Linked DNA regions of Homo sapiens: all the other regions are linked to region 1. The links come from fine-mapping of genetic effects on plasma protein levels. A gene starts in region 1. Each other region holds a variant in brackets. All regions are shown on one strand. Distances are between the middles of the regions. Region 1 holds the start of SERPINE2 (serpin family E member 2). Region 2 overlaps SERPINE2 (serpin family E member 2). Region 3 holds the start of LOC124907990 (a long non-coding RNA gene).

Region 1 (2,757 bases):
AAACAGTTCTTAGCATGTCTAAAAGTCACTTGGCTAGTAGTTCATCCACTCGTCAACAAAATTTATTGAGTAACTGCTATATGTGTGGTATGGCTCTAGGCACTAGGGATAGAGTGAGTTGGAAACAATATTGAAATTAGTTTCTCTTCCCTGGTCTCTGGGAGTATATTCCAATGAGAGAGAGTAGAAGAAAACTAGCAAGAAACAAGGTAAAAAAAAAATCAATTCATGATGAGGGTTATGAAGGAAGTCATAGGTTAGAGGGGATAAAGTGACTTTATCTCAAGTGGTCAGGGGAGGCTTCCTAGGGGAGAGGACATTTGAGTTGTGACCTCAAGTGTAAGGATGCAGACAACATAGAAGATCCTGGGACAAAAAGCATTTCAGGCACAGAGAATAAGAAAGTTACCCTGTAACTGAATATAAATATTTGGTATGACTGTAAAATAATTAAACAGATGCTCATTTTTGTAGACTGTTTGCTCCTTATTTTAGGACCAAGCCTCCCATAGCCTGTTTCCCTCTATGAGAGACTGAGAACACCCTTAGGCTGGTCCAGATTTTACACTTTTCAGAGCAACCCCTTCCCCAACACACACGTGCACACTCTGGCACGGCCACCTGCATGCCAAGGGGTGACTGCAGGCTGATCTTCCAAGTGGCTCTCATCAGTAGCTGTACCCTTAATCCAGGGCTGTGTATAGGGAGATTTACATTTCTTCCTCGCTGTTGGGGCCGTCTGCCTGCTAGCGACGATTCTACACTAACGGCTACATAAATTACTGTCATTAAAGTTGGGTCCTTGGGTCCCCAGAAACCTAACTAGAGGCAAAGGAGGAACCAACTAAGAGAGGTCCAGGTAACAGAGCCCGGAGCGGGACGGTCATTTGTTGCAGGCCCCTGGGGTATGTGCCTGTCTATCGCGCACCGGGTCCCAGCAGCAGTGGTTACCGGCTGAGAAGGGCTGGGTTCCCAGGACGCTGCGGGTACCTCATGCTATCACCATAGCCGGGAATCCAGTTTTCTGGTTCCCCTCGTCTGTATTTGCCTAAGGCGACTTGCCGCCGTTCCTCTGTCCCCTAGGCAGGGAGAAGTCAGCTCTAGGACACCCTGCAAAACGCCTCGAGGGGTTATCTGCCCCTTCCCGGCCGCGTCCTGGCACCGTTTCCCCATCACCCGGAGGACTGAGCGCTGTCTCAGGGCGCCCTCTGTCTCTTCCAGGGGGCAGCCAAGACGACATGCCCTGCGTCTCAGGGACGCGGTACGAGCCCTGGTATTCCCCCCGCCACCTCACACACCCCCATCCGGGAGACCCACGTGCAGCTGGGCCCGGGCTGGCGCCGCACCTCGGGGTCTGCGCGTCTCCCCGGCGCGTTCCGGGCGCAGCCCCACGACACGGACCCCTGGCGGGGCGGCATCCGAGAAGTCGCAGGCGGAGAGGGGGCGTCCTGGAGGCCGGGCGCGGGGACGCTGCGGCCCGCGGCCACACAAAGGAGGCGGCGGGAAGGCGGGGCAAGGCGGGCCGGGGGCGGGGGCGGCAGGAAGGGGCGGGGGCCCGCGCGGCGCCGCCGATAAAGCCCCCGCCGCCGCGGCAGCCAGCTTGCGCTGTGGGGCTGCCCGGGCTGCGCGGCGTCTGCAGGCGCCACCGCTGCCTCTTTCCGGCTGTGACCCTCCTCGCCGCCGCCGCTTGGCTGCGTCCTCCGACTCCCCGCGCCGCCGAGACCAGGCTCCCGCTCCGGTTGCGGCCGCACCGCCCTCCGCGGCCGCCCCCTGGGGATCCAGCGAGCGCGGTGAGTACAGGCTGCGCGGTGAGTCCCGGGCGCGGCCGGCGCTGCCCTCGGCGGGGGACGCTCCCCGGGGCTCCGCGCGCCACCGGCCCTGCTCCCTGACCTTGCGCCCGGCCGGGAAGCTGCGGGGCCAGCGGGACCCTGGGGCGCCGACGTCGGGGAGCAGAGAACTTTCTCAGCCTCCCGCGGGCCGCCTTGGCCGGGGCTGGGTGCTCGCCGGGCATCCCGGTCCCGCCCGCCGGGAGCCCCGAGCGGGACCCGGGCAGGGCAAGGCGGGGCCGCCCCGGGGTGGCGTCCAGTGATACCCGCAGCTGGGAGCACCGGGGCCGGCGTGGCTCCTGCCCGGCCATCCGAGCCGGCCCTGACCCTGAACCTGAGGTTTCCAGCTGCTCGCCGGCAACCCCTACCCCGGACTTAGGCTGCGCGCCGCCGGATGGGGAGAGACTGGCGCACTCTTACTTGTTACCTCTGCCTGGGCAGAGGGAGGTGACGCGCGGTGTGGGGAAAGCCTTTAACTTGGCCTCTGGCAGCCGATTTAACCCGAGCGAGCAGGTCTTTGCTATTTTCATCATCTGTAGAAACGGGAGTTGCGAGGCGGATGAGTGACTGCAGGTAAAATGAAAGTACGGTACTCAGAAATTCTGGAAGGAATTAGGCATTTAATGTGTCCACAAACTGAGCGGGGAAGGAAGGCTTCTATTACATAAGACAGCACTCCACCTTCAGGTATTATGGAAGATGCTGTTGAAGGTTTTAGTGTTTTAATGAACGAAACACATTCTTTGTGTGTGTGTCTCTGGAGAAATCTCGAATGCTGCTGTCTTGCTTTGGCTACTTTGCAGGGGACGTTCTTATATTTAGCATCAGCATAAAAAGGTGTTCGAAGGTGTGACTTCCTCTTTCAAGCCAAGAAGCCGTTTATTTGTCTGAATTGTTGTGGAACAATATATGTGATAATTGTGTACTTTGA
Region 2 (2,757 bases), 14 kb after region 1:
CTTAAGTGTCAGTTACTACTTTGTGCCAGAGGTAAATCTCTCTGCAGAGGGAAATGTTGGCACATAGCTGGTAAACACCAGTGTCTAGGTAGCCCTCCTGGGCACAACCGTCCTCATTTTTTCTTTTACTTGACTCTCCACTAAATCCTTTTTGCCCGAAACTTTGTAGAATTGGTATTTATTGATTTGTACCAGCTAAGAGTTGGCTATTTAGTCTCTGACGTGCTCTTTATGGCTGAAGAAAAACAGGTAACTCCTTCACAGAGGAGAGATTAATTCCCTAGAAAGGAAGACAAAAGTTTTCATGGACAACTTTGGAAAGGTGTGAAGCATTAAATATCTATGACAGCAAGACACGGGAATACACAAGCCTGTGTTAAGGCCTGATCCCTTCTGGGCCAGGCACATAAGCTGAAAATGGTACCTGAGCAATTTCTGAGTATGTCACGAAAAGGCACTGAAATACAGAAGTTTCTCTATGGAAAAGAGTGTCCCGGCTTGGAAACTGTGTCTGAAGCAAAAAATTTCCTCAAAATTGTTCTTCAGAAAGGGAGTTGCCGTCTAGTAGGGTCCTTACAAAATCATTAAGAGTTCGCAAAAAAACTAGATAGATGAGATCCATGAGTGACTGGCTGAGAACAGATGGGGAAGGCAAATTCGCCTGAAATTCTCTCAGTCAATGCATATTATGAATGCTTATCGAGGTTGCTTCATGAAAAGGGGTTAAATTTTAAAAAAGAGAGGCAAAGAAATTGAATACAGATTTAGTACTTGTTCTTGAGGTTATAACTTCAGAGTTGCCAGATATTGAACGTTGAATTAGTTAAGGTAGTGCTAGTTGTTGTAACAAATAAACCCAAATATGTACCGTGACTCAAACATGATGGAAGATTATTTTCCACTTGTATAAAGCCCGAAGTGGGCGTGTTTATGTGAAACCTGGTGATTTGGCGACCCAGCCTCTTCCTGTCTGTGGTTCCACTTTATTTAACAGGCAGCTGCTAAGGTCACGTACTTGTCAGCATTGAACTGGCGGAAGCAGAAAGATCATG[G/A]AGGACTGCATATGGGAGATTTTGATAGGCTAGGCCTGGGAGTGGAATGTGTCACTTCTCCTATTTCATTAAGAACAGTTCAGCCTTATGGTCACGCCCACCTACCTTGAAGGCTAGGAAATGTAGCCCAGCTCTGCGGTTGGCAAGAAGAGGAAATGGGTTTCCTGAAGAGCTAGCTGCCCTCTGTCATTTGAAATTTTATTAAGACCATTGAAGGTCACTTTAAAAGTAACACGATCACTAATATGCTGTGTGGATCGTCAATATATTTTTGCCTCTGAGGGCAACTTTCTTGGTCACTCTGAAGGGCTTCTGATGGCCTAGGGTAGGTGTTTCAGTGGCAGTGTTGCACATCGTTTTGAAAAGTGCTGTGTGATAGGCAACTTGGAAGGTAAGGAGGTGCTGTGCTTAGAAGAATGGTTACACAACTCACAAATTGAGGACAGGCATGTGGACACTACCTGGGAAGACTGTGAGCTAAATTGCTTCATGGAAGGTGGACATGGAATGAAAAGTACTATTTCTAACTCATAGGGTATGTGATTTCATGTGAGTCATAAAGTTTATTTGGGCAGATTGACCAAAATTTGTAGGGGGTAGGGATTTTCTCATTGGGAAAAGAAGAGGGCTGTCTTATCTGGGGGATGCCCTATATCCAAGCATGCATGGGAATTAGAAGTTAATCAAAGAAATAAAGAATTAACGCTGGAGGAGGGGAGCCTCACTCTTGCAATGTGGGAGAAGTTGGTCAGATGTGCTGGAAACACACTTATACATCTGGGAGGAAAAAGAGAGGTGAAAGCTGGGGAATGGGGTTAGTGCCAATCCTGCACTCTGAGGGAATGAAAAGAGACCCAGGGGACTGGGCAAGGGGCGGGCAGGTGACCTGTCCCTGGGAGAAGCCCTTGGCCGTGCCAGTCTTGTGGTGGGTACCCCCGTGTGCTCTCTTTTTTTTCTGTGTGATGTGGGCAGGTTCCCCAACCTCTCTGCATCTCTGTGTGTAAGAGTCTGTGAAATGATGTGTTCACAGAGCTGTGCACATAGTAGGGGCTTTATGAAAGTTTCTTCCCCCATCTTCTGTGCAGCTACTCACCAGCCCCATTGTTGGGGATCATTGTCTCCATAATTGGCTGTGAGTAACTGGGGAGATGTTCTCCCCTATAAAATGCAACTTCATGACAAAAAGAAGCTCAGCCCCCTTCATCCCTAAAGATTCGTTGGTGCAGTTTCTTATACCAGAGGTTAGATAAAGCTGAGAAGGAGAACTTCCATTGTCATTGACTTTTAATTCTAGAAGTCCCTGTTCTCCTATCTTAGCTTTGGATGTTGGCAGCAGGGCAGCAGGCGGGTCTTGTGAAGAAAAGTTCTGTGGAACCTAAGAGTTATTGACTTGTTCTTCAGCATCTTCGCGTAATCCTCATAGCAGCTCTCTGAAGTTCATTGGTGGGGAAGGAGGCTTATCACTGATCTTATAGATGAGGAAACTGAGTTGCAGATCAGGTATGTGACTTACCCATTGCAGGCAGGCCCAGGACTAGACAACAGGCCTGTTCCACAGTAGTGTTAAATGGGCATAGGTTTCTTCTGGGAAATAGCAAACGTCCCCTGGCCCTTAAATCCCTTCACAAGGCATTAGCATCAACTGTAGCAAAGGAAATGGAGTCAGGTTACAGGACGAAGCTCAGTAGCTGGGTGACTAAATCCA
Region 3 (2,757 bases), 29 kb after region 1:
TTATTCTAAAGGATCAGAGAAATCATGTTCATGGCCCAGTTTTGATTATAGATTGATAAATAATATCTCAAAATATGATTTCTTAAAATGTATCTAGGTACTGATAAAAAGAATTTGGATTTTATTGACATGTTTAAGAATTCATGGTTGTATTTTATGTATTTTTACCAATACTAAAAACATGGTCATGAACTATGTGTAATATTTTTTATGTCTAAAAAAGGTACTTCCATGTCTCTTGCTGAAGAGAGAAATTAAAAAGGTACTTCCTTGTTTTTAAAGATTGAGAACCATTGGTCAATGTCACTATAATGTCTTGGGTCACCTCTTGGTTGCTGGATTAGGAAATCAGCCATTTGGACCATTACGTCTTAAAGACATATCAAAAAGAAAAGTCTATAGGACTTGATACATAGGTAAACCAGATTTAATGATCTGAGTCAGCAGACCGAAAAACATATCTCAGCACTATTAAAGGTTTTCTGGGACATACTCACCCCTCCCCCTCCATTCCCACAGTAATGGACCCCTCAGTTCTCTTACAGAGACGGCAAAACGCACCAGCATTGTCTTAATTTATTTCTGAGTCTTAAATAGTCTAAGGAAGTTATAAAGATACAGACAAGGCTTTATCAAGGTAGCAGTGTTTGACTGTTTTCTTAGCTTGATCCTTGAGACTTTCTAAATGGTTGCTGAAATACAAATCAGAGTATTTCAGGTCTTGAGCATTGAAGAGGACCAGAAGAAGAGAGCCAGCATTTACTGAACACTTGCTCTGAGCCAGGTATTAGGCTGGTTACTATGTCTTTCAGTTTGCACCTATTGAATTTCCATGGCCACCCTTGAGATATGATTTCTAATATGGCAGAGGACAAAGCTAAGACGGATGAAGATTGTGACTTGCCTTGGATCTCTTGGTTAATGGGTAGTAGGATTGGAATTTGAACTTTAGGTGAATTTTCCCGGAAACTTAGAGGAAAATAGAATGAATATCCTGTAATCTTGAATTTTAAAAGACAGACTGCTAACAAAGCTCTAATCCCCTCCTTCCCCCTAGCCTTTTCCCATCAACCCAAAGAGATTTCAGAATGGATAATATATGGATAAAAGGCACTTGATGTCAGAGTGTACTTTATAATAAAATATGTGTCTTTTCATTGAAGGGACCATTTGGATGTTGCTGCCATACTTTTCAGCGGCTGAAAAGGTATTTCCTAAACATTTTTAGGTTCCTTTTTGGCCAAATTAATTAGTGTCATAGAATGAGCATACACTTTGAAGGCAGACAAAAATTTAAGAAAAAATTCAGATGTCTCTAAGTCTTTCTCCACTAACCTGAAAAACACATTTTAAAACTACCAAGCTGCTGTCCCCTTGATAAGTTGGCATTTC[C/T]TGTTTGTTCTCTAAATTTTAAAGATGCTGAGTCATTTTGCTAGTACTTAGTACACTTCCCAAGGATAACCAAGATGTACTTTAGTTTGCTTGTTCACCTGATTTGGTATCATAAGAAAATGTGGTAGATGTTTGGAAAATGAATACAGGTCTTGGTGGACATTATTTCAGTAATGCTTATACAGATTTGAGAGACAGAGACCATATGTGAGGCTTAACCCCGATTACTTGTACATTAACAATTACTGTCATCTTACAGAGACAGCCTTAATCTCCATGGCTCACCTCCTGAAGAGTTTCTAGAATGCCTCTTGCCAAACACCGTTGAGTGTTGGCAAAGTACTGATGAGAAATGTTTGGTCTGAATGCTGGACAGCACGATTTTACTTAAGGCCATTCAGAAGTCTCAGTTTGGCAGCCACAAACCTTGCCTGTACATTTGTTTTGTTGTTGTTTTTTTTTTGAGACAGAGTCTCACTCTGTCACCTGGGCTGGAGTGCAGTAGCACAATCTCGGCTCACTGCAGCCTCCACCTCCTGGGTTCAAGCGATTCCCACACCTCAGCCTCTGGAGTAGCTGGGATTATAGGCATGTGCTACCACACCCAGCTGATTTTTGTATTTCTAATAGAGACAGGGTTAAGCCATGTTGGCCAGGCTGGTTTCGAACTCCTGGCCTCAAGCACTCTGCCCACCTCGGCCTTCCAAAGTGCTGGGGTTACGGGCTTGAGCCACCGTGCCCGGCCTGTACATTTATTTCTTTGGGAAGCCCTGGCAGGAAAAGCTGTTGAGAGATGTCATGATTCGGACAAAACATACCTGCTGTTTTTCTCTACCTGCTGTAGCCCCTGTAGATTAATAAGGGGCCTTAGGTTCCAAGAACCAGGATCCTAGCAACACAGAGACTAGAAGGATGGCGAGACTTTCCCAGTGCCTGAGAAGGTGTCAGCTTTCACTGAGGGGCGGGGAGGGGAGAGGCTGAGATAAATCCGGGGACTCACCTTGCCGTGCTGTGTGTCGGTTGTTTGTCGCTGGCATCTGCACTGTTAGGATTCCATTTTTAGGCTGGGCTTGATTCAGGAGGCTCGCTGCTGTCACACGAGGGCAATCCACTTTGATTCTCCCAGCCCAGCTTTTAATGCCCAGCAGACTCCTTTATCTTGTCATCATCCAGCGAGCCTCCCTCGGTCTAGATGGCCATGGGAGGCAAACCCGTTCAGTGTCAGCAGCTGGTCTTTCATAATTTGATTTTCCAGTGATGTTTGAGCCATCGGTGTGAAACAGTCACCAGTCTGGCTCTCATAATTTGAATTTCAGTATTTGGATATATTCCAGAGAGTGGTGTAAATGGACTTTGGATTTTCCT

Evidence for each region. A credible set is the group of variants that fine-mapping cannot tell apart. PIP is the chance, under the fine-mapping model, that this variant and not a neighbour inherited with it causes the effect. The UK Biobank Pharma Proteomics Project read protein levels with antibody pairs (Olink). The fine-mapping took linkage between variants from a reference panel, not from the people measured, so its PIPs are less certain.
Region 2: its variant is the best candidate, but not a certain one, in a credible set for the plasma level of the SERPINE2 protein (UK Biobank, PIP 0.83).
Region 3: its variant is the best candidate, but not a certain one, in a credible set for the plasma level of the SERPINE2 protein (UK Biobank, PIP 0.81).

What each region holds. Positions count from the first base shown.
Region 1 is chr2:224,038,132-224,040,888 of GRCh38, reverse strand. It overlaps SERPINE2 (serpin family E member 2), which reads left to right and starts at 1,603. Exons shown (of 9, transcript NM_001136528.2): 1 at 1,603-1,790. It overlaps LOC124907991 (a long non-coding RNA gene), which reads right to left and starts at 1,487. Exons shown (of 2, transcript XR_007088103.1): 1 at 1,347-1,487. RefSeq lists a silencer at 1,143-1,437.
Region 2 is chr2:224,024,388-224,027,144 of GRCh38, reverse strand. The region is part of intron 1 of SERPINE2 (serpin family E member 2); the gene reads left to right. Among named protein-coding and RNA genes, the nearest start is that of SERPINE2, 14 kb to the left of the region's middle. RefSeq lists enhancers at 1-462, 854-903, 964-1,023. The variant G/A (reference allele first, on the strand shown) is at 1,053.
Region 3 is chr2:224,008,793-224,011,549 of GRCh38, reverse strand. All of the region lies in intron 1 of SERPINE2 (serpin family E member 2), which reads left to right. LOC124907990 (a long non-coding RNA gene) reads right to left here and starts at 2,673. Exons shown (of 2, transcript XR_007088102.1): 1 at 2,393-2,673. RefSeq lists enhancers at 1,553-2,128, 1,053-2,252. The variant C/T (reference allele first, on the strand shown) is at 1,393.